Homo sapiens: one gene and its partner. The gene in region 1 interacts genetically with each later gene. Each region holds a gene or a part of one and is shown on either strand. Other genes may lie near its edges. The genes, in order: CEBPB and NOLC1.

Region 1 (14,660 bases):
CCAGCTATTTGGGAGGCTAAGGCATGAGAGCTGCTTGAACCTGGGAAGTGGAATTTGCAGTGAGCTGAGATCTGAGATCATGCCACTGCACTCCAGCCTGGGCAACAAAGTGAGACTCTGTTTTGAAAAAAAAAAAAAAAAAAGGCATTACTATATAATCCAGTAACCCCACCACTGGGTATATATCCCATGGAAATGAATCTAGTGTGTTGAAGAAATATCTGCGCTTGCACATATCCTATGGAAATGAATCTAGTATGTTGAAGAAATATCTGCGCTTGCACGGTTATTGCAGCGTTATTCACTAAGTTTTGAGGTGCAGTGTTACATGGTGGCAGCCAGAACCCCCGGCCCTGGGCTACTACTGTTGCTGGTTTCTTATGACCCTTCCAGCATGAGCCTCTGCATCCTCAAATACATGAAGCTGGGTGCGGTGGCGCACGTCTGCAGTCCCAGCTACTCAGGAGGCTGAGGTGGGAGGATCGCCAGACCCAGGAATTTGTGTGCTATGATCTCCCTGTGAACAGCCACTGCAGTCCAGCCTGGGTGATACAGTGAGACCCTGTTTCTAAACAGATAAACAAACCAAAAAGAATACGTGAGTACATTTCCACTCCTCCCCTCATTTATGTGGGGTTCGCACACCACACATCCGGCCTGCTCTTGGCTTTTATTTTTTTTCCAATTAATGATAGATCTTGGAGATTGTTCTAGATGTGTACTGTTCAATATAGTAGTCGCTAGTCCAGGAGGTGATTTAAATGTATTTTAAAAGATTAAATTTTTATGTATTTTTTAAAAGTAGAGCACTCCTCCTGCCTCAGCCTCCCAAGTAGCTGGGACTACAGGCACACACCACCATGACCGGCTAATTTTTTTTTTTTTTTTTTTAAGATGGAGTCTCACTCTGTTGCCCAGGCTGGAGTGCAGTGGCATGATCTCGGCTCACTGCAACCTCTGCTGCCCGGGTTCAAGTGATTCTCTTGCCTCAGCCTCCTGAGTAGCTGGGATTATAGGCACCTGCCACTGTGCCTGGCTAATTTTTGTGGGTTTTTTTTTTTAGTAGAGATGGGGTTTCACCATCTTGGCCAGGCTGGTCTTGAACTCCTGACCTCATGATCCACCCGCCTTGGCCTCCCAAAGTGCTGGGATTACAGGTGTGAGCCACTGCACCCAGCCTTAATTTAAATTTAAATACAATTCAATAAAATTAAAAATTCAGTTCCTCAAGTACACTAGCCACATTTCAGGAATTCAATAGACACACATGGCTGATAGCTGCCGTATGATACAACCCAGATAGAGAACATGTCCATCATTCTAGAAGGTTCTCTTGGACAGTGCTGGTCTAAGTCCTCTCCCATGGAGCTACCTCATTCTTCTTAGTGTTCTTTGGTAATGACAGCCACTGACGTTACCTCACAAGCTTTTGCTATTGCAAAGCATTTGCTGTTCTCCATTTTTCTTTAAGCAAATGTGAGTGTCTTGGTGGCATAAATGCCTTGCATTTCTGGGTCCAGTGACATTTCCCATTTTGTTTTTTTCCTTTTTTTATATTTTGTTTTATTATTTTTTAAATTATACTTTAAGTTTTAGGGTACATGTGCACAATGTGCAGGTTAGTTACATATGTATACATGTGCCATGTTGGTGTGCTGCACCCAGTAACTCGTCATTTAACATTAGGTATATCTCCAAATGCTATCCCTACCCCCTTCCCCCACCCCACAACAGGCCCCGGTGTGTGATGTTCCCCTTCCTGTGTCCATGTGTTCTCATTGTTCAATTTCCACCTATGAGTGAGAATATGCCGTGTTTGGTTTTTTTTGTCCTTGCGATAGTTTGCTGAGAATGATGGTTTCCAGCTTCATCCATGTCACTACAAAGGACATGAACTCTCATTTTTTATGGCTGCGACATTTCCCATTTTGATGGGCATGGCCAGATTAGAACTGGAGGTTACGCCACTTCGCACAAAGACTGAAGCTGTAAGAGTGCCTGTTTTTCCACACCATCAACACTGCGTGTCATTCACATTTTAAAAACGTTTTAGCTAATGGCAAAGGTTTTCAAGACAAACGTGACTTTACCAGGCCCCTGCCCTGCCTGTTGCCTCTCAAGTCACAATGCCAGTGGACATCTTTCTCTGTCCACAGGTGAAGATCCATCTTTTGTTTGTTTGTTAGAAATGAGAGGCCGGGCGTGGTGGCTCATGCCTGTAATCCCAGCACTTTGGGAGGCCGAGGCGGGTGGATCAGGAGGTCAGGAGATCGAGACCACGGTGAAACTCCGTCTCTACTAAAAATACAAAAAATTAGCTGGGCGCAGTGGCGGGCGCCTGTAGTCCCAGCTACTTGGGAGGCTGAGGCAGAATGGCGTGAACCAGGAAGGCGGAGCTTGCAGTGAGCCGAGATCGCGCCACTGCACTCCAGCCTGGGCGACAGAGCGAGACTCCGTCTCAAAAAAAAAAAAAAAAAAAAAAAAAAAAAGAGATCTTACTGTATTGCCCAGGCTGGTCTTGAACTCCTGGGCTCAAGGGATCCTCCTGCCTCGGCCTCCCAAAGTGCTGGGATTACAGGTGTGAACCACTGCGCCTGGCCCACGTTGGCCTTTTTTTTCAAATTGTAAAATACGCAGAACATAAAACTTACCATATTAACCATTTTAAGTGCACAGTTTGGTGCCATTAAGGACATTCACGCTGTTGGGTAATCGTCACCACCATCCATCTCCAGAACTCTTTCCATCTTCCCAAAGATGGAACTCTATATCCATTAAACAAGAACTTCCTCCTACCTCAGCTCCTGGCAACCACTGTTCTATTTTCTGTCTTTATGAATCTGACTACTCAAGGCACTTCATGTAAGTGGTATCATGCAGTATTTGTCCTTTTGTGACTGGCTTATTTCACTTAGCACAATATCCTTAAGGTTCATCCGTGTTGTAGCCTGTGTCAGAATCTCCTTACTTTTTAAGGCTAAATAACATTCTATTGTACAGACACATCACATTTTGTCCATTCGTCCATCGATGGACACGGGTGGCTTCCACCTCTTTTTTTTTTTTTTTTTTTTTTTTTAAGTCGGCGTCTTGCTCTGTCACCTAGGCTGGAGTGCAGTGGTGCGATCTCAGCTCACTGCAACCTCTACCTCCCAGGTTCAAGCGATTCTCCTGTCTCAGCCTCCCAAGTAGCAGGGATTACAGGCACCCGCCACCACACCCAGCTAATTGCTTCCACCTTTTGGCTATTGTGAAGAAGGCTGCTATGAACGTGAGTGTACAAATATCTCTTCAAGATCTTGCTTTCAATTCGTTTGGATACACACCCAGAAATAAAATTGCTGGGTCATTTGGTAATTCTATTTTTAATTTTTTGAGGAACAGCCATACCATTTCCCACAGTAGCTACACAAGCATTCCAGTTTCTACACATCCTTCCCAACGCAGCAGCCAGCCTAATGGGCGTAAGGTGGTATCTCATTGTGTTTTATTCCTTTTATTTTTAGTTGACACATAATTGTACATGTTCATGGGTTACAAAATGATATTTCAATACATGTATACAACGTGTAATAATCAAATCTGGGTAATTAGGATATCCATTACCTCAAGCGTTTATCATTTCTTTGTGTCGGGAACATTCAAAATCCTCTCTTCTCATTGCGTTTTGTTTGTTTTTTAGATGGAGTCTCACTCAGTTGCCCAGGCTGGGGTGCAGTGGCGTGATCTTGGCTTGCTGCAACCTCCACCTCCCAGGTTCAAGTGATTCTCCTGCCTCAGCCTCCCAAGTAGCTGGGACTATACGCACGTACCATCACGCCCAGCTAATTTTTGTATTTTTAGTAGAGACGGGGTTTCACCGTGTCGGCCAGGCTGGTCTCCAACTCTTGACCTCAGGTGATCCACCAAAGTGTTGCGCCTCATTGCAGTTTTGGTTTGTATTTCCTTAATGGTTAGTGATGTTGAGTATCTTATCATGTGATTATTAGCCATTCACAGTTTTCTCTGGAGAAATGTTTATTCAAGTCCTTTGCCCATTTTTAATTGAGTTGTTTTTATTGCTGTTGAGTTGTAACAGTTCTTTATGTATTCTGGATATGAACCCCTTATCAGATATATGATTTGCAAATATTTTCTCCCATTCCATGTTTCCATGTTCCATTTTTTTTTTTTTGGAGGCAGAGTCTTGCTTTGTCACCCAGGTTGGAGTGCAGAGGCACAATTTCGGCTCACTGCAACCTCCGCCTCCCGGGTTCAAGTGATTCTCATGTCTCAGCCTCCTGAATAGCTGGGATTACAGATGCACGCCACCATGCCTGGCCATTTTTTTTTTTTTAATTTTTAGTAGAGATGGGGTTTCACCATGTTGGCCAGGCTGGTCTCAGACTCCTGACCTCAAGTAATCCACCCACCTCGGCCTCCCAAAGTGCTAGGATTGCAGGCATGAGCCGCTGTGCCTGGCCAGCCCCCACTATTTCTATGACACAAATTCCTGCTACTCTCCGTCATCACCACAACTACGTGCTCCTACCTCAGGGCCTTTGCACTTGCTGTTCCCTTTGTGTGGTCCAAGGTCCCCCAGATACCTGCTTCACCACATTCAGGTTTTTGCTTAAATGTCACCTCAGTGAGGTCTTCCCTGACTACTCTAACATAAAGTTAAAATCAACTCCCCCAGCTTGGGCAATATAATGAGACCTGATCTCTACAAAACATTAAAAAATCAGCTGGGTGTGGTGGCATGCCCCTGTGGTCCCAGCTACTTGGGAGGTTGAGGTGGGAGGATCACCTGAGCCCAAGAAGCAGAGGCTGCAGTGAGCAGAGATCGTGCCACTGCACTCCAGCAGTGAGACCCTGTCTCAAAAAACAAACAAACAAAAAACCCCAGAAAACAAAAAATCAAATCTCCCAGAACTCCTGCTCTGCTCCCCTGCTGTATTTTCCTCCATAGTGCTGACCAGAATCTAATACAATCTATACTTTAATCATTGATCTTGTTTAGTGCTTGTCTTCCCCCAGGAGAATTTCAGCTCCACGAGAACAGGAATTGCTTGTCTTGTCCATGAATGTGTCTTTAGGGCCAGAATTACAGCATGTGCCAAGGAACATTCGATAAATGTGAAGGTTGAGCACTGTTTTCTGTTCGTTGGACACTCTGGTTCCTCTCGGCGGCCTGCTGATGCCCTGTGTGCATCTATCACATCCATGGCACCGGCCTTTCCTGATCCCAGAGCAAGGGCGCCCAGCGGATCTTCACGCATGTGAATGGCTCCTGCAGTCCCAGAACCTGCCACCTGGGGGCAGTATATACTCAGGCAAGTTTCACTACCGGTCCTGAGCACCTCCCGTCTCCAAAATCCTGGATCTCAGAACCTCGGAGCCTGGCAGCCCTTGGGGATCTATCTCTGCCAGCCCCACTTGGCAGATGGGGAAACTGAGGCCTCAGAGAGGAGGCATGATGGGGAAAATCTCAAACATTGGAATCAGGGAATCTGGCTTTTAAGTCTGGCTCTTGTACCCATTCACAAGGGTACAAGGGGGATTTGGAGGGGGAAGTAGGAAGTTCTAATCCTCTTCGGGCCTCAGTTTCCCCATCTGCCTGCTTTGTGGGGTGAAAGGGACATCTGATTAACTCTAATGTGTCGGGGAAGGCCAGCAGTGAGGGGTAACAGCAGGCCCAGAATCCCAGATAGAATATTATCACCTCATTTTATATACCAGGGACTGAGGCCCAGAGGGGACACCAGACACGGCCGGAGAGCCACAGCATGGAAGGCACAGGGCAGCATGAAAGGCCATCCCCCTGCCATCCCCCTGCCCCACGCCCACTAGAGACACCCCCCCATTCATGTTCTGATGGTTCACCTCTCCGCCATATTTTCCCACCTGCTGGCTGATTTCTAAGCCCTTTTGCAGAACACTCTCTGTCAAAGCAGCCACGTGGATCTCCCCTTGGCAAATCGCCTCAGTTTTCTCCTCTTGAAAATGGGATAGGGAAAAGCTGCAGAGATGGGGAGGAGGAATTGTGAAAAGCAGTTTGGGGGCAGAGGAGGACGTGTGTCCCAGGTAGGAAAGTGCCTGTTCCCTCCCCGCCCCCGCCTGGCTCCTGCCCACCACCATGTGGCCACGTGGGCCCAGCCCACAGCTTCAGGTTTTAAAAGAGGAGCTGGAAATTTGAATTTTGATGTGAAATCTCCTGATTTTTAAATGTTGGCAATAAATTCACTTAAACACACACACATCAAGCAAAACGCTATGGGGTCAAATTGAACACATCTGTGGTCTCGATTTGGCCACTGGCTGCCAGTTTGAGATCCTTTCCGGCTCTAGGTTCTGAGGGCAGGTGACTGGGAGAGGTGGCGCCAGGGGGATCCTGGTTTCCTGTGCCCACACAGCCACTCACGTACTCTGGGCCTCTGGGCCGTGGTGGTTCAAGCTCCCACCATCCCCACTTCTTGGGGAAAGGCTGAACAGTACTGGGGTGGGGGTGGGGGAGCAGCAGGCGGGGCCTGTTGAGCAAGAGCCTTGTAAAAACAAGGGCTTACGTCATCCTAGCTTGCAGCTTCCCTGCAGGACACCTGGGTCGGCACCGGGGTGGGACCTGCGCTGAGAAGGGATGGGTCATCCCCAGCAGGGGGTGGAGGGTGGGGAAGGGTGGCAAGCATGTTCCACCCCAGAGGCCAGAGGGCCTAGACCCCTGCTGGGGCTGAGTCTGGTCTTTGGGGGCTGGCCTGCAAGGTCCGAGTAACACCTTAACGCACTGTGTGACCCCAGGTCTACCCTTCTCTGTGCCTCAGTTCTTCTATCCAGAAGATGGGACTCACATTGCCAGGCCTGTTATGACAAACCCAAGAGGGAAAGTCAGACTGGAAAGATTTTATTCCTTCTCATCCTTTCATGTGACCTGGAGCAGACACACTTAGCTCTTCTGGGCCTCAGTTTCCTCATCTATAAAGTGGAGATAATGATAAGACTGTGGCCTGGCGCAGCGGCTCACACCTGTAATCTCAGCACTTTGGGAGGCTGAGGCAAGAGGGCCACTTGAGGCCAGGCGTTCGAGAAAAGCCTGAGCAACAGAGTGAGACATATCCATCTCTACAAAACATTGAAAAATATGAAAAAAGAAGAAGAAAAAAGACCTGCCTCCTACAAATTATCAGTAGGATTAAATGAGTTAATACATGCAAAGAGCTTGGAATGTGGTTCAGAGAAGGTGGAAGTTTGGCCTAAGAACACACAGCAAATCCTCCAATTAGCTTCAGTTCCCCCATATCTCCCTGCATCTCTTCAGAATCCAGAAAGGGAACGTGGGCGAGTGCTTTGGTTCAGAGAGGGGAGCCATTTTGCCTAAGGTCACACAGCCCAGCTAACGAGGAACCTCTCCTTCTTCTCAGCCTCCTCCATTTATTCACTCACCATTCATCGAGCACCTTCTATGTACCAGGCTCTGTTCTAGGCACCAGGGACACAGTAGTGAAGGCCGTGGGGACAGACAGCAAGACTGGCAGGCAAGATAATTCTGATTATAATGAGAATGGTGACGGAAATGAAGCAGGGGTGTGAGAGGAGTGACTGAGGGCCTAGACTTCCCATGGGAAGGTCAGGGAGGGTTTCCCGGAGGAGGCAGCTTTTGGGCTGAGACCTGAGGAGCTGCCTTGGGCAGAGGTGGGGTGACAGTGTTCTTGGTGCACAGGGAACAGCAAATGCATTCCTTCACTGGTAAATGTTGAGCGTGCTGTGCTCAGGAGTCCCTCGTGGGCCAGCCCTCCCCAAGTGGCAGCCTGCAGGGAGACTGAGGTAGACAGCTAGGATAATGGTGGCTGGCGATAGGGAAGGAAATTCACTAGCAGGTGGGACAGGGAGGGCCTCTCAGAAGCCGTGGCCTCTAGCTCAGCCCTGAGTGTCCCATTTTGCAGTGAGGAAGGGCTGGCCGGGTGGCCCTAGGGAAGCTGCCGCACCCCTCTGGGCCTTGATCCCTCCCCAACCCAGAGGCTGCTGGGAAGACCCAGAAAGCCAGCAGGCTGGGCCAGTGTTTTATCCCCTCCCTCCCTGCCTCCTACCCACCAAGGGTGCCCAGAGATGTCATTTCTCCAGCTCTTGGGGGCGGAGGTCACCCCAGCTCAGCAGATAACACCAAAGGTTGAGCAATGCCCGCCTGCCCGCTGGGGCCAGGGCTGGGGTCAGTGGGCTGGGGATCAGCCCCGGGCAGGCTGGGAGCTCCTGCCTAGGTGGCCTGGGCTAGGAGTGGCAGAGAGGTGGGCCCAGGGAGCTGCCCCAATGGCCTAGGAATGGGTCCGGGAGGGCAAAGGGCCCTCTAACCTGAGCCTACCCAGCAGAGGCGGGCAAGTGGTCAGAAGGCCTTGGGCCTGTGTTCAAGTCCAGGCGGGCCGTTGTCGCTTTCCCGTCTGTGAAATGGCAGCAGCAAAAGCATCTTCCTGGTGGGGTGAAAAAAGTTGAACCTCGGGGTGCAGGCCCACCGTAAGCACAGGGCAGGGACTTGGTAAAAACTTATCTTTCTCTTTCCTTCTCTTTCCTGCATACCACCCCCTCCCGTGAGGCCTCGCTTAAGTCCCTCCCTAGCAACTTCAGAAACAGAAGTTTTTGGCCTCTGGGACTGGCAATAGGTCTTAGGGCTCAGATGAGGGCATTTCATTTGGGATGAATGGGGGACATGCGGCCATGTGACCTTGGTATGCCACGCCATGCTCTCTCTGGGCCTCCACTGGCACAATCCGTGGGGGTCCCGTTCTCTCTGATGTGCAGCCCACAACGTAAGCCTTAGGTTTGGGAGTCTGGTGGGAACAATGCCACCACCACTGACAGTAGCGACACCCTTCATGGATTGCAGCTGGGAGAAGTGAAGTGACTCACCCAAGGTCACACAGTGTGGCAGGGCCGAGCACCCCCCGCCCCTGCCCCATCCCAGGGCCCAGGTCGGGTGGCGCAGCGCGGGGCAAGAGAAGACCCGGGCGTGTCCAAGCCTCGAGCAGGCGGCAGGTGTGGTGGGCGGGGCTAGGGGCGGGGCTCCGTGGACCAGGGTCCAGCCCCAAGCGGGGCGCGATCCTGCCCGGTCGCGCCGACCCCCGGGGTCCTCATATTGTCTGTGGCTTAAGAGGGGAGTCGTCACAGGCGTCAAGTCTTCTTTCTAAAGCCGGGGACCTGGGGAGGAGGTGGGAGTTTACGGGAGGAAGGGCCACGGAGATGGGTCGCTTCTCCTGGAGCTAGAGCTGCGGGCTGGGGTCTCCAGGGTTCGGCCCGGGGAGCCGACCCTGGTCGGCCGTCGGGGCTCTGCTCGGCCCTCCTGAAACCTCCGCCTCCTCCAGCAGGGGGCGGGCCGGGGCCGCGTCTCGGGGGGAAGGCGATCAGGTCGCCCCCTCCTCCGATTCCCCCGCCTTCCAGGACAGCCTCCAGCCCAGAGGGGCGGTCCGGGGGCGGGGTCGCACCGCCCCCTCTCGCTCCCAATCCCGGGGCGGCCGGGCGGGGGTGGGCAGGGGGCGTGAGGCCGCCCCTGCGTCCCGGGGGCCCCCCGAAAACGCGCTCCGGGTGCCCGGTCCCTCCGCTGCGCCCTGCCGCCGTCCTCCCGGGGGTCTCGGGCGGCCGCGGCCGTGTCCTTCGCGTCCCGGCGGCGCGGCGGGAGGGGCCGGCGTGACGCAGCGGTTGCTACGGGCCGCCCTTATAAATAACCGGGCTCAGGAGAAACTTTAGCGAGTCAGAGCCGCGCACGGGACTGGGAAGGGGACCCACCCGAGGGTCCAGCCACCAGCCCCCTCACTAATAGCGGCCACCCCGGCAGCGGCGGCAGCAGCAGCAGCGACGCAGCGGCGACAGCTCAGAGCAGGGAGGCCGCGCCACCTGCGGGCCGGCCGGAGCGGGCAGCCCCAGGCCCCCTCCCCGGGCACCCGCGTTCATGCAACGCCTGGTGGCCTGGGACCCAGCATGTCTCCCCCTGCCGCCGCCGCCGCCTGCCTTTAAATCCATGGAAGTGGCCAACTTCTACTACGAGGCGGACTGCTTGGCTGCTGCGTACGGCGGCAAGGCGGCCCCCGCGGCGCCCCCCGCGGCCAGACCCGGGCCGCGCCCCCCCGCCGGCGAGCTGGGCAGCATCGGCGACCACGAGCGCGCCATCGACTTCAGCCCGTACCTGGAGCCGCTGGGCGCGCCGCAGGCCCCGGCGCCCGCCACGGCCACGGACACCTTCGAGGCGGCTCCGCCCGCGCCCGCCCCCGCGCCCGCCTCCTCCGGGCAGCACCACGACTTCCTCTCCGACCTCTTCTCCGACGACTACGGGGGCAAGAACTGCAAGAAGCCGGCCGAGTACGGCTACGTGAGCCTGGGGCGCCTGGGGGCCGCCAAGGGCGCGCTGCACCCCGGCTGCTTCGCGCCCCTGCACCCACCGCCCCCGCCGCCGCCGCCGCCCGCCGAGCTCAAGGCGGAGCCGGGCTTCGAGCCCGCGGACTGCAAGCGGAAGGAGGAGGCCGGGGCGCCGGGCGGCGGCGCAGGCATGGCGGCGGGCTTCCCGTACGCGCTGCGCGCTTACCTCGGCTACCAGGCGGTGCCGAGCGGCAGCAGCGGGAGCCTCTCCACGTCCTCCTCGTCCAGCCCGCCCGGCACGCCGAGCCCCGCTGACGCCAAGGCGCCCCCGACCGCCTGCTACGCGGGGGCCGCGCCGGCGCCCTCGCAGGTCAAGAGCAAGGCCAAGAAGACCGTGGACAAGCACAGCGACGAGTACAAGATCCGGCGCGAGCGCAACAACATCGCCGTGCGCAAGAGCCGCGACAAGGCCAAGATGCGCAACCTGGAGACGCAGCACAAGGTCCTGGAGCTCACGGCCGAGAACGAGCGGCTGCAGAAGAAGGTGGAGCAGCTGTCGCGCGAGCTCAGCACCCTGCGGAACTTGTTCAAGCAGCTGCCCGAGCCCCTGCTCGCCTCCTCCGGCCACTGCTAGCGCGGCCCCCGCGCGCGTCCCCCTGCCGGCCGGGGCTGAGACTCCGGGGAGCGCCCGCGCCCGCGCCCTCGCCCCCGCCCCCGGCGGCGCCGGCAAAACTTTGGCACTGGGGCACTTGGCAGCGCGGGGAGCCCGTCGGTAATTTTAATATTTTATTATATATATATATCTATATTTTTGTCCAAACCAACCGCACATGCAGATGGGGCTCCCGCCCGTGGTGTTATTTAAAGAAGAAACGTCTATGTGTACAGATGAATGATAAACTCTCTGCTTCTCCCTCTGCCCCTCTCCAGGCGCCGGCGGGCGGGCCGGTTTCGAAGTTGATGCAATCGGTTTAAACATGGCTGAACGCGTGTGTACACGGGACTGACGCAACCCACGTGTAACTGTCAGCCGGGCCCTGAGTAATCGCTTAAAGATGTTCCTACGGGCTTGTTGCTGTTGATGTTTTGTTTTGTTTTGTTTTTTGGTCTTTTTTTGTATTATAAAAAATAATCTATTTCTATGAGAAAAGAGGCGTCTGTATATTTTGGGAATCTTTTCCGTTTCAAGCATTAAGAACACTTTTAATAAACTTTTTTTTGAGAATGGTTACAAAGCCTTTTGGGGGCAGTAATTGGCTTTTGTTTTTTATTTTTTTACTTTATTTTGGATTTGTAGGATTTTGTTTTTGCGTTTCTGGTGTGTAGGGGGTTGTGTGTGGGGGGCTGCTGTTATTTTTGGAGGTTTTGGTGGTTGGGTGGGGGTGTTGCAGCTGGTTTTTCTGCCTCCTCTGCTACTCCCCCTCCCACACACACAGGGTCTGCTTGAGATGGGGTTCCAGCCCCGGGGGAAAGGGGAGAAGAGTAATGGGTCAGGCATTCAGGCTGACTCAGAGCCCCTAGGCGCCGGGACGGGTGGCTGGGAACCCTGCTTGAGAAGAGATTCCGGAGCCTCTGGCTGGTCCCGAGTGTCAGGCTTGGGTTTGGAAGGGCTGGGAGGTCTGTGACCCCTGCCCTGTGTTTGGGGACTAGGTAGGCAGGCCTGTGACTGTAGGAGGAGGGGGTTCAGGTCTTGGTCCTGCTGAGCCCGAGTCAGGGCAGATGCTTTTGGTCAGTGTAGTGGGGTGGGTTGTTTAAAACACAGTTTGTGTATACATGTGTATTTTAAAGAGGGGAGCCTGGGTGTGTGGGCGAGTCTGTGTTTGTGTGTCCCTGGCCAGCAGGAGGGGAGAGGCCAGGCCAGGTGGAGAGAGGTGGGGGAGGGGTTCCCACACTTTGATTACCTTTCCTGAGGATGGGAGGCTCATCACTTGCTCTCTTTGCCCAGACTTGGACACTGAGCCCACCTCACCTGCCTGCTCAAGGTGGCTGAGCCCAGGCACAAACGTGGGGCTGCTAGCCCTGATTCCCTGGGACAGGCTCCTCTTCCCTGCCCACTGATCCCTTTGCCCCTTCCGGCTTCTCACCGCACCCCCTACTCCCATCCAGCCCTGGATGGCATTCCTGAGAGTTGAGGATGTAGATGGATGTGAGTGGATACATGTACAGCGTCCCACAGTGCCTGGCACGCAAGAAGTGTTATATAAGCGCTTGCTCTTGTTATTATTTTTTGCTGGGAAGCTGCTGGCATTTGGCACCCCAGTCTCCAGTGCAGCGCCAGTGTGGCCAGTACTTGCCAGGGGCCGGCATCTGGTAAACACTGGACCTGCCCCATCCCATTTAGACCTCACAATAACCTTTGGGAAGGTGGGGATTGTTATGACGCCTGTTTTTAGAGGTGGGGAGCAGCTTTGGGCTGTCCGATCCCTATGGGCAAGACACTGGTTGGGGGTTGCCCTGCCCTGAGGAATTCAGGGGCAGCAGGCATCGTAGCCTGGTTTGCCAAGGACCTGGGGCGGTCTGGGATCTCAGGAGCAGTTGCTGATACCGTGGTTCGCGAATGGGAAATGCTTTGCCCCTCCTTTTCCTTTTGGGGGCCTGGTTGTGCTTTCCCTGTGGGAGCCTGGGATGTGGGGAACAGACAGCGACACTCATCCCCCACCGCCACAAAGCGGAGGATTCCTATAAGCTCCACCTCCCTAATGCCAGTGTCTCCTGATGGTGGCTCGAGGGCTATGCAGATTGCTGGACACAGATAACCTCACTTCAACCTGGGACCTGCAGCGTGGCCCTGACCACGTCCCCTCCCAGCCCTGGGCAACTGGACAACTGGCCGGGCATGCCTTCAAAGCCTCGAAGTCAGTTCAGTCCCAAGCCCCACTGGTCTCGATGGTTTCTGTCAGTAGCAGCGACAGCAATGTGGGCTTGACCTCAAGGATTTACTTGCTGAAGGCAGAGGCTGAGGGGCTGGACCTAGGGAAGGAGGGAGGTGGAGAGGGTCGAAATTGAGGAACAAATCTCAAATCCCTGCTCCCTCCTTTGTCACCAAGAGTTGGCTGGTGGCCACTGCTCACCCAAATGAGGTGAGAGGGAAGCAGCCTGGCCAGACGGTGCCCCTCTTCCGCCCCCGTCTGCCCCACAGCTTCGCTTCTGTTTCCCCAGTGCTGTCCTGGAACCAGCGTTGAGTCAGTTCTTCACACACTCACATCTTGCTCTCATCCACAGTACCCCACAGAAGGTGCTAGACCCATTTCTAAAAGCACACATTGAGGTCCACAGAAGTGAGGTTTGTGCTCAAGGTGGGCTAGGTGGAGCAGGTTACAAAACCATCCGACTCCCAAGTCTATGGGGAAAGTTTGGGGCTGGGAGCCTGGTTTGTAATCCCAGTTCCTGTTTAAAATCCCAGGCTCTTCTTGGAGGGCTCCTTGCCTGACCTCAAGTTCAGGCACTCCAAGCCCCAGAACTGCAAACATCAGTTTCACAGTTTGGAAGCAACAGAAAGTGAATTTGAACCTGAACCCCTTGGGCTGCCTCTAAGGAGGGCTGGGAGAAGCAGTTCACAGGTTGAGGGCTTTGACGGTGGCTTGGTATGGGAGCACTGTGGACGGAGCTGTGCCCAAAGGACTTGGGGAGATGTCATAGTTAGGGCAACACCAACCCCACAGTTCACCAAGCTGCAAGGGTGAAGGGCTCGCAGGGAGGAACCAGTCCATTCCGACATCCAGAAACAGGAGGGGGTGGGATGGGGTGAGGCGAGCCCAGGAGGCCAGGGACGAGCCTTGAGGAATCATGATAATAGCAGGTGTGAGACAAGGGCTTAGATGTGCAAAGCACCACTCCAAGCCCTTGGCACAGAGGGAGGTGCTGGGTCCTTAGATATGTGGGAGAAAGCCGGTCATGTTAACCACAGACCCATTTAGTGTGTTTGACCACTGAGGCTAGCTGGGAGGTGGGAGCCTGGAACCCCAACTAATGTTTGCTCAGGACAAGAGAGTTCACAAAACAAGACACATTCACACCTCATAATCTTATGCAATTGTCCCACGGCCTGGTGATTTTAGCAAGGAGATAAGTGGATGTCAGAAATGAACGCTCGAGACACTGCTGGGTGCCGGTTCCACACTGACACTGTGCTCCTTGGTTTAATCAACTCATTAGCCTTTTGGAGGCTGCAGCTTTTGTTACTAGCATTTTGCTGCTGTGCAAACCAGCTTAGAGAGGTGAACTGACCTGTCTTAAGTTTGCACAGCTAAGAATGGCAGAAGCTGGAGTGGGAGTGAGAAGGGGAACTGCTCCTTCTGAACACCTGAAGAATATTTCCCTGCAGGCTGGGCGAGGTGGCTCACGCCTGT
Region 2 (14,346 bases), on another chromosome or scaffold:
TTTCAAAAAAAAAAAAAGAGAGAGAGAGAGAGATGGAGGTCTCACTGTCTTGCCCAGGCTGGTCTTGAACTCCTGTCCTTAAGTGATCCTCCTGCCTTGGCCTGCCAAAGTGTTAGCGTACCTGCGCCCGGCCTGAATGCATTTTTTTTTTTTTTTGAGACTTACTCTGTCGCCCAGGCTGGAGTACAATGGTGTGATACTGGCTCACTGCAACCTCAGCCTCCTGGGTTAAAGCGATTCTCCTGCCTCAGCCTCCTGAGTAGCTGGGATTACAGGTGTGCACCACCATGCCCAGTTAATTTTTTGTGTTTCTGGTAGAAATGGGGTTTCACCATGTTGGCCAGGCTGGTCTCAAACTCCTGACATCATGATCTGCCTACCTCGACCTCCCATAGTGCTGGGATTACAGCAGACCTGAGCCACCGTGCCTGGCCCTTAAATGCAGTTCTTTACATTCAATACAGTACTTACTAGTCTTGTTTCTTTCTTTTTTTTTTTGAGACAGAGTCTTGGTCTGTCGCACAGGCTGGAGTGCAGTGGCGCGATCTCAGCTTACTGCACCCTCCGCCTCTGGGGTTCAAACGATTCTTCTGCCTCAGCCTCCCGAGTACCTGGGATTACAGGCGCCTGCCACCACACCCGGCTAAGAGACAGGGTTTCTCCATGTTGGCCAGGCTGGTCTTGAACTCCTGGCCTCAGGCGATCTGCCCGCCTTGGCCTCCCAGAGTGTTGGGATTATAGGCGTGAGCCACTGCATCCCGCCTGGAGGCTTATTTCTAATGATTTGGTATTATAATCCACATTGCAGGAAAAACCTTCTTGTATTAGTGTTTGTACCCTCAAGTAATGGATAAGATTACATTCTTAGATAGTACATTGCTAGAGTAAAGAGAGAGCCTTTTTTTTGGCAGAGGGGTAGAGATGGGGGTCTTGCTATGTTGCTTAGGCTGGTCTTGAACTCCTGGCATCCAGTGATCCTCCTGTCTCAGCTTCCCAAAGTGCTGAGATAACATGAGATAACAGGCATAAGCCACTGTGCCCAGTCAAAAGTGATTTTTTTTTTTTTTTGAAATGGAGTCTTGCTCTTGTTGCTCAGGCTGGAGTGCAGTGGCGCGATCTCCTAGGTTCAAGTGATTCTCCTGCTTCAGCCTTCTAGGTTCAAGCAATTCTCCTGCTTCAGCCTCCCAAGTAGCTGGGACTACAGACATCTGCCATCATGCTGGGCTAATTTTTGTTTTAGTAGAGATGGGGTTTCACCATGTTGGCCAGGCTGGTCTTGAACTCCTGACCTCTTGATCTGCCTGCCTCGGCCTCCCAAAGTGCTGGGATTACAAGCATGAGCCACCGTGACTGGCTGATTTTTTGTTTTGTTTTGTTTTAGGACTTTGATCAATATAGATTGGCAGGCAGGGGGTTAGATGGTTAGATGGTGCCGCAAACATAGGAGTAGCCCGTTTTTTACATCAGAAATTGGGAAATCCACAAATAGAATATTTTTCTCCTGATTTATGCACGTAGCAAAAGTTTTATGAAGATGTAACATTTATACCAAATTTAGTAATTATGTATGTAACAGGCCACATTTAATGAAAGCATAACCAGGATAAAATAATTTCCTTACCCAGCTCTTTTTCTTCTACAGACACAGCAGGATGCCAATGCCTCTTCCCTCTTAGACATCTATAGCTTCTGGCTCAAGTAAGCCTTTCCTGTTCCATTTTGGCTATTTTCTCCCCCAAGATAGGCTGGGCTGTGTTTCTTGGTTTGGGAAGATTCCAGTCCCCTAGAAATTGGTCCAATCTACCTCAGCAGGTCTGCCAAGGTCCCAGAGCGAAAGTTACAGGCAAATGGACCAGTGGCTAAGAAAGCTAAGAAGAAGGCCTCATCCAGTGACAGTGAGGACAGCAGCGAGGAGGAGGAGGAAGTTCAAGGGCCTCCAGCAAAGAAGGCTGGTAAGGCAGAGTAGCAGGTGGGCTTGGTGGTGCCAGGAAAAGAATTTACAGCCTGCTTGTTTCACATGGCTGATTCTTACTGGGACCTGTGTGTTTGTTCAGCTGTACCTGCCAAGCGAGTCGGTCTGCCTCCTGGGAAGGCTGCAGCCAAAGCATCAGAGAGTAGCAGCAGTGAAGAGTCCAGTGATGATGATGATGAGGAGGACCAAAAGAAACAGCCTGTCCAGGTTTGCAGCTTTGGGAAGAAAAAGGGGTTTAAGGATTAGAAAGGAAGAAACCTAAAATCTTGGCCTCTAGCTTGTAACCAAGGGGTGATGGCGGCAATACAATAGGTGATTATGAGGAAGAAAATCTGGGGATTTTCAGGGAGCTGATAAAAGTATGAGGTCTGGAAGGGATGTGTGAGGTTGAGGTCAGGCTCCGAATCTAGAGGAAATTAAACCCATTCTGCTTGAGGAGTTTGGGTTCTTCTGGGACACTATTCAGGGCTCCAAGAATAAGAGAGAGTGTTTTCCTGGGAGCTTTGGCAGGATAAGGCAGGAACAGGGCCAGTGTATCAAGTGGCTGAACTTTGTTGTTTTTTGCCCTTTCCGTATCCTGTCCTTAGCTTTCTTTTGCTCTTACTGCTCCATTAGGCCCCTAAAAATAAAAGGAACCTAGGATGCCCTTTGGGTACCCGGAAGCTTTTGCTGATTTCTCTCCTTGTGTCTTTTCTAACAGAAGGGAGTTAAGCCCCAAGCCAAGGCAGCCAAAGCTCCTCCTAAGAAGGCCAAGAGCTCTGATTCTGATTCTGACTCAAGCTCCGAGGATGAGCCACCAAAGAACCAGAAGCCAAAGATAACACCTGTGACAGTTAAAGCTCAGACTAAAGCCCCTCCCAAACCAGGTACTGTTTCTGTTCCCAAGAGGCTGGGCTGGGGACCAGATTGCTCTGGGGACTGGAGTTAAAATTGCCGATTTGGCACAGGGGTGAAATGGTACTGTTTGTTGAACTGGAGGTGTTGATTACTGGTCTTTTAATTTTAAAGGTTTTACTAATAAATAACAAGATTTCATAGGAGCTAGTAAATAGAGAAAGTTATTGCAGCAAGAAAAAATGTGTATTTTTTTTAATGGTATCCATTTGGTATTTTGTGACATTTCATAGACATTTTATGTTTTCACACATCCCATTCCACTGTAATCACTTAAATATCTATTTGTTGTGCTTTTCACTGCCATTTTTACTCTTGTATGTTCATTCTATGAGACAAATGAGAATTTTTCTTTTTTTCTGTAACTTGTGATGAGGGTTAGGTTATTTCTCTGAATGGAGGTTGAAGTGAAAGATTTTAGAGGGCGTATTGAGATTATTTATGTCATCTTTTCTAAGAAGACAGTTTTATTCCTGCCATGGGATAGGAAAGGTATCCTTTGATGTGGTAAACCATGGCTGGCATTCTCCTCGATGGCTGCTCTAAAGTTGAAAGAATTGGTGGACTCCTGGCCAGGCACAGTGGCTCACACCTATAATCCCAGCACTTTGGGAGGCTGAGGCGGGCGGATTGCTTGAGGTCAGGAGTTCAAGACCAGCCTGGCCAACATGGCGAAACCCTGTGTCTACTAAAAATATAAAAATTAGCTGGGCATGGTGGTGGGCACCTGTAATCCCAGCTACTCCAGAGGCTGAGGCGGGAGAGTTGCCTGAACCACTGCACACTAGCCTGTGCAACAGAGCCAGAGCCAGACTCCGTCTCCAAAAAAAAAAAAAAAAAAAAAAAAAAAAATGGTGGACTCCTAAGTTCTCTGCTCATAGGAAGGAGGTTTTTCATGGTCCTGACTTGCCCTAATACTCCTTACTCTTTCTTTTTCTTGGGTATTCCAGCTCGAGCAGCACCTAAAATAGCCAATGGTAAAGCAGCCAGTAGCAGCAGTAGCAGCAGCAGCAGCAGTAGCAGTGATGACTCAGAGGAGGAGAAGGCAGCAGCCACCCCCAAGAAGGTCTGGACCATAACTTCTGTCAGGGCAGAGGTGACCAGGGTGTGATGTGTGTGTGTCTTCCTTCCCTGGCAGGATTGGTTGGGTCAGCATTTTCCTGTGGTAATCAATTTTCTTTCTAATGCAGACTGTACCTAAAAAGCAAGTTGTGGCCAAGGCCCCAGTGAAAGCAGCTACCACCCCTACCCGGAAGAGTTCTAGCAGTGAGGATTCCTCCAGTGACGAGGAAGAGGAGCAAAAAAAACCCATGAAAAATAAACCAGGTGACTGGACATGGGGAGCGAAGCTGTGTGACTGTGGTCAGGGCCCAGCTGCAGTAACCACATGGACCTCTCCATAGAGGTGCATGAGCGTCCTCATGACATGACAGCTAGCTTCTCCGAGCACTAGTGATCCAGGAAAGCAAGGAGAAATCTCCAGTGCCTTGTGTAACCTAGACTCAGAGGTGACACCATGTTCTGTTAGAACTGAGTCATTGATTCTGGCCCATACTCAAGTGAAGGGGAATTAAGCTTCATTTCTACAAGAAAGTAGTATCAAAAAAAGTTGTAGACATATCCTAAAACCATCACACTATCCTTTTTAAACAGGTCCCTACAGTTCAGTCCCCCCGCCTTCTGCTCCCCCACCAAAGAAGTCTCTGGGAACCCAGCCTCCCAAGAAGGCTGTGGAGAAGCAGCAGCCTGTGGAAAGCAGTGAAGACAGCAGTGATGAGTCTGGTGAGTCAGAGGGATGCAGCCTCCCCTCAGCGTGGGTCTGGAGGAGGGGATGAGGAATAAGGGAGAGAGAAAGCCTTCCATCCTTCGGTTGCTTTTTGCTTAAAGCAAGACAGAGCTAAGGCTCTGTGCGTGTCTTTGCATTCTTTTTATTGCTGTCCTGGTTGGGTTGGGACTCTGGACCCAGCATAATGCTACAGGTTCTCCTCAGATTCAAGTTCTGAAGAAGAGAAGAAACCCCCAACTAAGGCAGTAGTCTCTAAAGCAACCACTAAACCACCTCCAGCAAAGAAAGCAGCAGAGAGCTCTTCAGACAGCTCAGGTAAGGCATATGGAGGCCCTCAGTTCAGTGAGATGCTCTCAGGCAGCTGCTAAGGGCTCCCCTGAATCCAATTTGGGGAGCTGTTGATTCCATCCCTTCTGTGTCTAGACTCTGACAGCTCTGAGGATGATGAAGCTCCTTCTAAGCCAGCTGGTACCACCAAGAATTCTTCAAATAAGCCAGCTGTCACCACCAAGTCACCTGCAGTGAAGCCAGCTGCAGCCCCCAAGCAACCTGTGGGCGGTGGCCAGAAGCTTCTGACGAGAAAGGCTGACAGCAGCTCCAGTGAGGAAGAGAGCAGCTCCAGTGAGGAGGAGAAGACAAAGAAGATGGTGGCCACCACTAAGCCCAAGGCGACTGCCAAAGCAGCTCTATCTCTGCCTGCCAAGCAGGCTCCTCAGGGTAGTAGGGACAGCAGCTCTGATTCAGACAGCTCCAGCAGTGAGGAGGAGGAAGAGAAGACATCTAAGTCTGCAGTTAAGAAGAAGCCACAGAAGGTAGCAGGAGGTGCAGCCCCTTCCAAGCCAGCCTCTGCAAAGAAAGGAAAGGCTGAGAGCAGCAACAGTTCTTCTTCTGATGACTCCAGTGAGGAAGAGGAAGAGAAGCTCAAGGGCAAGGGCTCTCCAAGACCACAAGCCCCCAAGGCCAATGGCACCTCTGCACTGACTGCCCAGAATGGAAAAGCAGCTAAGAACAGTGAGGAGGAGGAAGAAGAAAAGAAAAAGGCGGCAGTGGTAGTTTCCAAATCAGGTCTGTACCCAATGAACATGCCCTCTGGGTTTTGTCCCCCCAAATCAGGATGGGATATACTCTTTGAGAGTAGGGTAGTGAGAGGAGGCCCACCACTGGGCTTCCAGTTGTGGAAACTGGGAGGAAGAACAGGAAACTGGTTACCTTTTTTTTTTTTTATTAGAGTCTCACTGTGTCACCCAGACCAGGGTGCAATGGCATGATCACGGCTTGTGCAGCCTTAACCTCATGGACTCAGGTGATCTTTCCACCCCAGCCTCCTGAGTAGCCGGGACTACAAGCATGCACCACCATGTCTGGCTCATTTTTTTAACTTTTTATAGAGACAGAATCTCACTATATTGCCCAGGCTGATCTGAATTTCCTGGGCTCAAGCGATCCTCCTACCTTGGACTCCCAAAATGCTGGGGTTACAGTTGTGAGCCACTGTACTCGGCCTGAGTCTGGCTTTTTGTTTTGTAGGTTCATTAAAGAAGCGGAAGCAGAATGAGGCTGCCAAGGAGGCAGAGACTCCTCAGGCCAAGAAGATAAAGCTTCAGACCCCTAACACATTTCCAAAAAGGAAGAAAGTAAGTTGTCTCACTTTCTTCTCAGGAGCCAGCTCTTTAAAAGTAGAAAAATCTAGGATCATCTTGACAGCTCTGCCTGGCGTGACCTGGTACATGTGCCCATGTGTATCACTCAGGAGAACTGTTACATGACCACTCTGTCTTTAATTTCCTACTTCATTCTTCTGTAGGGAGAAAAAAGGGCATCATCCCCATTCCGAAGGGTCAGGGAGGAGGAAATTGAGGTGGATTCACGAGTTGCGGACAACTCCTTTGATGCCAAGGTGAGAGAGAGATCTGTGCCATTCTTGGGAGGGAGGATGGGTAGTGTCAGAGAGGACAATTCTTGGTTCAGGTTGGTGGGAATCTTCTCTGGGTTCAGGTTTCCTTGAGCAGGGAGTAGAAAGAATAAAGTGACAGGGCTCCAGCATGGTCCTCCTCTGTGTTAATCTCCCTCTCTACTTACCAGCGAGGTGCAGCCGGAGACTGGGGAGAGCGAGCCAATCAGGTTTTGAAGTTCACCAAAGGCAAGTCCTTTCGGCATGAGAAAACCAAGAAGAAGCGGGGCAGCTACCGGGGAGGCTCAATCTCTGTCCAGGTCAATTCTATTAAGTTTGACAGCGAGTGACCTGAGGCCATCTTCGGTGAAGCAAGGGTGATGATCGGAGACTACTTACTTTCTCCAGTGGACCTGGGAACCCTCAGGTCTCTAGGTGAGGGTCTTGATGAGGACAGAAGTTTAGAGTAGGTCCTAAGACTTTACAGTGTAACATCCTCTCTGGTCCTTTTCTGTGTTCCTAGTTTTGTACAGACTTGTTTTTGAGTGTTGAGTAGCAGGGACAAAATAAGGGAATGTTATTTTTTAAGAAAATTCATTTTCATTGTTGTCTCCTTCCTTTTCTGTGAAAGTCCTCATACTGAGAAATTTGTATATTTTATATTAAATCACTTACTATTGATTTTTGTTGTGATTTTCAAAGGTGGATTCCCACAGATAAAATCTTGGCTATTGCCCAAAACATAGTAAAGGGTCACGTGTGACTTTTTATAATAGGAAGAAAATTCTGCCTTTGTGAGTGCACATGTCCACATTTCATCCCTCCTTCCCTCAAAACCCTAGAGAGGGGCATTAAAGAATTGTTGATGTATATGCAATGTCTGTTAAGCATGCACTATGTATTTCATCCTCATTTATTGGGTCTGGGACTGAAGTTTTTAGCCAGCATGGACCTAACCTACTTTTTGGGATAAAATTCTCTGTTTTGTTACAGGCAAAATTCTGGTATGGCGTGAATGCCATGGGTCATTCTGAATATATTTTTTTCTGTAATTTTATCATTACACGATGTTTGCAATACGTGCTTTGTTTTTTAATTTGAAAGCAAACTTTTCTACTGTTGAAAGACATTTTTTGACAACTTGACCCTTCCTAGTATTGAGTTCTAAGTTGAGGACTGCATCTTCTCGTTTTTTACAGTATAGAGAACAAAATGACATGAGTTTGAAAAATACATATCACTTGGTATTGCTGTCTTGGTTGCAGTGGTGATACAGAATTGGTTTCATTAATTCCTACATGGTTGAGAATCACTGATCAAGAAAGTGGGGGGAAAAAAAACAAACGTTAAAACCTCAATCCTCAGTAGGAAGGTAGATTACATTAGGTGAAATTATAGGTAATCTATGTATGTGCTAATGGGGTTGGAAAGAACCTTACAGAGCATATTACCTGATAAACTGGAGTGGGTTTGGGAGAACAAACTAATAGGATTATTGTGTCTCCTAGTTGGTACCTGGGAGCAATTGACATGCCCCCTTCAGAACCTTAACTGTTAGTAGCAGTGGCTGTAACAACACAAACCAGTGACCAGAGATAACAGCTTTTAGGCCAAGCTGGCCTGACGGTATGGCTGCAGGAAGTGACTGAGCAGTAGCGGTACTCAGCCAGACCAAGACGGAGAGGGAAGAGTCCACAGCTTTCTGGAAGCTAAGGCATTCTGGTGGTAGAAAAGTGTGCCCCAAGCCTTCATGGACGAGTTATAGGTCTTAAGATTAGTCTCCTCTTGTTTGGATTCCATACTTGCTAAATAACCTGATAATAACCTGGTTTTCCATGTAACTGCCTCTAGGAAGAAAATGTACTGTTCATGCTGACACAGATATTTCAGTCTGCATGGTAAAAGTTCTAAATCTTACTACAAAATAATAAACTGGCTGGTTTATAATGTGTCTTGGGAGTTTTATTATTGTGAGTCTAAACCCCTCCCACCCCCTACTCAAACCAGAACAACTTTGGTGCCAGTTATAGGACTGGGGTCCAGACCTGTGATTTCACTGCAGAGGCTTTTTGGCAGCAGCTTGTCTCACGGTGCCTTTTCCAGGCTATATTCTAGCCTACGCATAGTCCAAATTGGGGGTTGGCAAAATGGCCTATGGGTCAAATCCAGCCCATGGTTTGTTTTTGTATTACCTAGGAGCTAAGAATGGTTTTTACATTTGTAAAGGTCTTTTAAAAAGAGAATGTGTGACAGAGATCTTATCAATGGCCCACAAAGCCTAAGATATTTAGGATGCGGCCCTTTACAGAAGAAGTTTGCCAATCCCTGGTCTAAATCAGCGATTCCTAAGACATCAGCTGAAAATTAGAATCATCTGAGGAACTTAGAAGCACGGATACTCGCAAATCAAAACCACAATGAGATACCATCTCACACCAGTTAGAATGGCGATCATTAAAAAGTCAGGAAAGAACAGGTGCTGGAGAGGATGTGGAGAAATAGGAACACTTTTATACTGTTGGTTGGACTGTAAACTAGTTCAACCATTGTGGTAGACAGTGTGGCGATTCCTCAGGGATCTAGAACTAGAAATACCATTTGACCCAGCAATCCCATTGCTGAGTATATACCCAAAGGATTATAAATCATGCTGCTATAAAGACACATGCACACGTATGTTTATTGTGGCACTATTCACAATAGCAAAGACTTGGAACCAACCCAAATGTCCATCAATGATAGACTGGATTAAGAAAATGTGGCACATACACCCCATGGAATACTACAGCCATAAAAAAGGATGAGTTCGTGTCCTTTGTAGGGACATGGATGAAGCTGGAAACCATCATTCTCAGCAAACTATCACAAAGACAGAAAACCAAACACCGCATGTTCTCACTCATAGGTGGGAATTGAACAATGAGAACACTTGCACACAGGGTGGGGAACATCACACACCAGGGCCTAATGTGGGGTGGGGGGAGGGAAGGGATAGCATTAGGAGATAGATATACCTAATGTAAATGACAGTTAATGGGTGCAGCAAACCAACATGGCACATGTATACATATGTAACAAACCTGCACATTGTGCACATGTACCCTAGAACTTACCCTAGTATAATATAAAAAATAAAAAGAAACACGGATACTCAGGGGCCCATCCTGAGATCTATTGAGTCAGACCCTGGTGCTGTCTGGTGAGGCCCGGGCACTAGGGTATTTTTAAAGCTCCCAGATGATTCTAATGAACAGGTAGAGTTGAAAACCGCTTATCTAAAGAGTATTTGAAAAGAAGTGAATTGGTATTTCCCACCTTCATGCTTCCATTTTCAAATATACTTGTTAAAAATAATAGTATAAAATGAAAATTTCAGGCCAGGTACAGTGGCTTACGCATGTAATACCAGCACTTTGGGAGGCCAAGGCAGACGGATCACCTGAGGTCAGTAGTTCGAGACCAGCCTGGTCAACATGGTGAAACCCCGTCTCTACTAAAAAATACAAAAATTAGCTGGGCGTGGTGGCACGTGCCTGTAATCCCAGCTACTCGGGAGGCTGAGGCAGGAGAATTGCTTGAACCCTGGAGGTGGAGGTTGCAGTGAGCTGAGATCGTGCCACTGCACTCCAGCCTGGCGACACAGTGAGACGCTGTCTCAAAAATTTAAAAAAAAAAAAAAAAAATTTCATCTCAGCCCTGTTTCCTGGAACCTGCTTCTGTGTCTCCTTCCAGACAGTTTCTAGGTATGTGCTACTATATGCATCCTCCCCTCCTTTTTTTCTTGGCACAAATGGGGCAGTTCGTCAAGTGCAATGTTTTGCAACTTTCAGAGCTCAATTCATAGCAGAACACAGCAGCTCATTTTTAATGGCTATATGGTACTCTGTTTTAAGTTATTTAAATTAGTACTTTAGGGGCAGAAGTTTAAGTATTTTGCTATTACAAATAGTGTTACACTGGGTAGTCTTATACATGAGACTGAGTATCTGTGTGTTTTTATGTAGGAAATATTCCTAAAAATGATGGCTGGTTCAAAGGATATTTGCATTTATTAATAACATTTTGATCATTATTGCCCTCCAAAATCGTTCTACTAATCGTATAGTTCCAGCAACATTTTATCAAAGTGCCTCTTTGCCCTCTTGCCAACACTATTTACCAAATTGATCTTTGCTACTTGGATAAATGAAAATGCTCTCTCATTTTTGTTTGTTTTTGTTTTATAGTGGTAAAACACGACATTAAATTTACCACTAACCATTTTTAATTGTATGGTTTAGTAGTGTTAAGTATATTCCACTGTGTAACAGATACCTAGGACGTTTTCATCTTGTAAAATTGAAACTATATTCATTAAACACTAATATCCCCTCCTCCCCAGCCCTTGGCAACCATCTTTCTACTTTGTTTTTATGATTTTGGCTACTTTAGATATAACCTCATGAGTGGAACAGTAATGATATTATCTTTTTGTAGCTGGCTTATTTTACTTAGCCAAGCCAATGTCCTCAAGGTTCATCCATGTTATAGCAGGTGACAGGATTCCCTTCCTTTTTAAGACTGCATGATATTCCATTGTACGTCTATACCACTTTCGCCCAGACTGGAGTGCAGTGGCGTGATCTCAGCTTACTGCAACATCCGCCTCCCAGGTTCAAGCAATTCTCTGCCTCAGCCTCCTGAGTAGCTGGGATTATAGGCACCTGCCACCATGCCTGGCTAATTTTTGTATTTTTAGTAGAGACGGGATTTCACCATCTTGGCCAGGCTGGTCTTGAACTCCTGACCTCGTGATCTGCCCACCTCGGCCTCCCAAAGTGCTGGGATTACAGGTGTGAGCTACCACGCCTGGCCTTGGCATTTTTATTTTATTTATTTTGAGACAGGGTCTTGCTCTGTCACCCAGGCTGGAGTACAGTGGTGCAAACTTGGCTCACTACAACCTCCACCTCCCAGGCTCAAGCAATCCTCTCATCTTAGCCTTCCGAATAGCTGGGACCACAGGTATGTGCCACCACACTTGGCTAATTTTTGTGTTTTTTGTAGACAGGGTTTTGTCATGTTGCCCAGGCTGGTCTCGAACTGAGCTCAAGCTATCTGCCTGCCTTGGCCTCCCACAAGTGTTGGGATTACAGACGGGAGCCACCGCGCCCAGCCCGTTTTCATTTTTAAGTTGAATATGACATACATCCATTAATTTATTCTCCTTAAAACATAAATAATTTGTGAGGTTGCTGTTTATTGTTTAAATCATGACTTTTCTTCTGTATTGTATAACCCTTCTCAGTCTTGTTTGCTTTTTTCCGACAGAACTCATTTCCTCTTAGGCCTTGCAAAGCTGAGTCTGCTACGTTTTGCAGCTAGTGTGTTACACAAATGAGGCGGTTTAGCAAATTGCCTAACAGTATTCATTAGGAAGGTTAACCTGAGTCTGCGTTTGTTTGTTTGTTTGTTTGTTTTTGAGACAGGGTCTTGCTCTGTTGCACAGGCTGGAGTGCAGTGGTGCGATTACGATCACCGCTCACTGCAGCCTCAGCCTCTGGGGCTCAAGCAGATACTCTGATCTCAGCCCCCTGAGTAGCTGAGATCCTCCCACCTCAGCCTCCTGAGTAGCTGGGACTACAGTAGTCACTAGGCTTGGCTAGTTGTTTTTTTGTTTGTTTTGTTTTTGTTTTTGTTTTTAATTTTGTTTTGTAGAGACAGGGTCTCCCTGTGTTGCCCAGGCTACTCTCAAACAATCCTCCCACCTCAGCCTCCCAAAGTGCTGGGATTACAGGCGTGAGCCACTGTGCCCAGCCCAGAGTGTACCTTCTGATGTAAAATGAGAATACTGGCTGGGCCTGTAATCCCAGCACTTTGGGAGTCCAAGGCGGGTGGATCACGAGGTCAGGAGATCGAGACTATCCTGGCTACTTGCAGTGAGCTGAGATCGCACCACTGCACTCCAGGCTGGGTGACAGAGCAAGGCTCTGTCTCAAAAAAAGAGAGAATACTATCTCAACTCATTTGTAGATTCTTGACTCTCTCAGAGGCTTGTTGTAAGGACTGAGAATTTAAAGCACTTAGTACAGTCCCTGGCATATTATAAGCACTCCATAACTGCCTCTTGCTCAACAAAAAAAGCTTTGGAAATGATGTTCTTTGGTTTCCTTGTGATGTGCAACATGCCATTTTGGCAAAGGCATCAAGCATATGTTAATGATTATTTCCCTGCAATGGTTTTTTGTTGTTTCACGTTTATCATCTTTATTCCTGATACAAAAATGGATATGTGGAATTGGTCCTATTAGAAACTTCTTAGTTTTGTGAAGAATCTGGAATTCCTACCCCTTGCTGATGGGCTCTGGCACTGAAATCCGCAAATTCAGTCAACCAGACACATGGCTCATGCCCCTCTGCATCATGCTTCATGGACACAGGCAGGAGACTTCCTAATGCCCTGTTGGGGGCTTGCCCTTCGCCCGGTGTAGCCTTACTGCAACCCTGTTAGGTGGGTATCGAGTAGATCATTCCATTTGGGGCCAGGTAAGTCTTTGCTTTTGAGGACTGTCCTGTGTGTTGTAGGATGTGTGGCAGCGTCCCTGGCCTCTAACACTGCATGCCAATAGTTTCCCCTAGTTGTGACAACCAAAAACGGCTCCAGGCATTGCCAAATATTTTCTGGGAAGGAAAATTGCCCCTAGTTGAAAACCACTACGGAAACAGCCCTGAGTATCAAATGATTTACTTAGGGTTGATGAAACTGCAACTTAGTGGCACATTGAGACAAGAACACAGGTCTCTGTATGTCCAAACATGGAGCTACCTGTATTCAATAGTCTTTGTGAACCTGCTATGTACTCGTCATAGAACTCCCAGAGAGCTCAGTGTCTAATGGGGAAAGTCAGGCATGGGAATGGTTTCTGTGCACTGAGCTGAGTTCTGTCCCAAACTGAAGGTCAGAGTAGCACCCCTAAGGGTACAAGCAAGAAAATACTTGGCTTGGCCCGGTGTGGTGGCTCACACCTGTAATCCCAGCACTTTGGGAGGCCGAGGCAGGCAGATCACGAGGTCAGGAGTTCGAGACCAGCCTGGTCAACATAGTGAAACCTCGTCTCTACTAAAAATACAAAAAATTAGCCAGGTGTGGTGGCAGGCGCCTGTAATCCCAGCTACTCAGGAAACTGAGACAGGAGAATCGCTTGAAACCGGAAGGCGGAGGTTGCAGTGAGCCAAGATCGTGCCACTGCACTCCAGCCTGGGCAACAAAGTGAAACTCTGTCTCAAAAAAAAAAAAAAAAAAAAAGAAGAAGAAGAAGAAGAAAAGACTTGGCTGATGGTGGCCTAGGATTCTGAAGACAGCTGCAGTTTGCCAGGAGCGAGAAAAGTGCATACCGTGTAAGGAAGAGTGCCTTTTCCAGTGGGAGAAGAGGGCTGTTAGAATGGGTCAAGCAGAGGTGTGCGGGAGGTGGGGGCAAGATACTGCGAAATTTCACTGAGAGTTCAATGTCAATGGCCTTTTGTACCTAAGTTAGGAATTAGTACTTTATTTTGTCCACCTGAGTATGTTAGGAGATTTGATAGTCTAATACAATACTCCTGGCACTAATCCGGTTGCGGTGAAAGCACTATTTCTGCCGGACCACGAAGTTCTCAAATCCCTCCTGCAGAGCCTGTCTGCAGTTACCGATGGGGCCAGTAGGTGGCGATGTTGCCCCCCTGTTTAGGGAGCTGGGCTGGACTTAAATAGAAGCTTAACTCCTTACTTACTCCAGTGCTATTCAACAAACTTGAAGAGCCGGGCGCAGTGGCTCACGCCTGTAA

What was found.
Region 2: of CEBPB (region 1) and NOLC1, changing one enhances a phenotype caused by changing the other (phenotypic enhancement), as found in Homo sapiens cells (one study listed by BioGRID).

What each region holds. Positions count from the first base shown.
Region 1 is NC_000020.11:50,181,127-50,195,786, forward strand, and holds CEBPB (CCAAT/enhancer-binding protein beta), read left to right. Parts: upstream 1-9,703; 5' UTR 9,704-9,907; coding exon 9,908-10,945; 3' UTR 10,946-11,542; downstream 11,543-14,660. UniProt on the Homo sapiens protein: Important transcription factor regulating the expression of genes involved in immune and inflammatory responses. Also plays a significant role in adipogenesis, as well as in the gluconeogenic pathway, liver regeneration, and hematopoiesis.
Region 2 is NC_000010.11:102,155,377-102,169,722, forward strand, and holds the end of NOLC1 (nucleolar and coiled-body phosphoprotein 1), read left to right. Parts: intron 1-1,642; coding exon 1,643-1,698; intron 1,699-1,809; coding exon of another isoform or gene 1,810-1,812; coding exon 1,813-1,952; intron 1,953-2,054; coding exon 2,055-2,179; intron 2,180-2,672; coding exon 2,673-2,838; intron 2,839-3,816; coding exon 3,817-3,932; coding exon of another isoform or gene 3,933-3,962; intron 3,963-4,056; coding exon 4,057-4,192; intron 4,193-4,519; coding exon 4,520-4,648; intron 4,649-4,856; coding exon 4,857-4,967; intron 4,968-5,075; coding exon 5,076-5,717; intron 5,718-6,179; coding exon 6,180-6,286; intron 6,287-6,456; coding exon 6,457-6,549; intron 6,550-6,734; coding exon 6,735-6,893; 3' UTR 6,894-8,494; downstream 8,495-14,346. UniProt on the Homo sapiens protein: Nucleolar protein that acts as a regulator of RNA polymerase I by connecting RNA polymerase I with enzymes responsible for ribosomal processing and modification.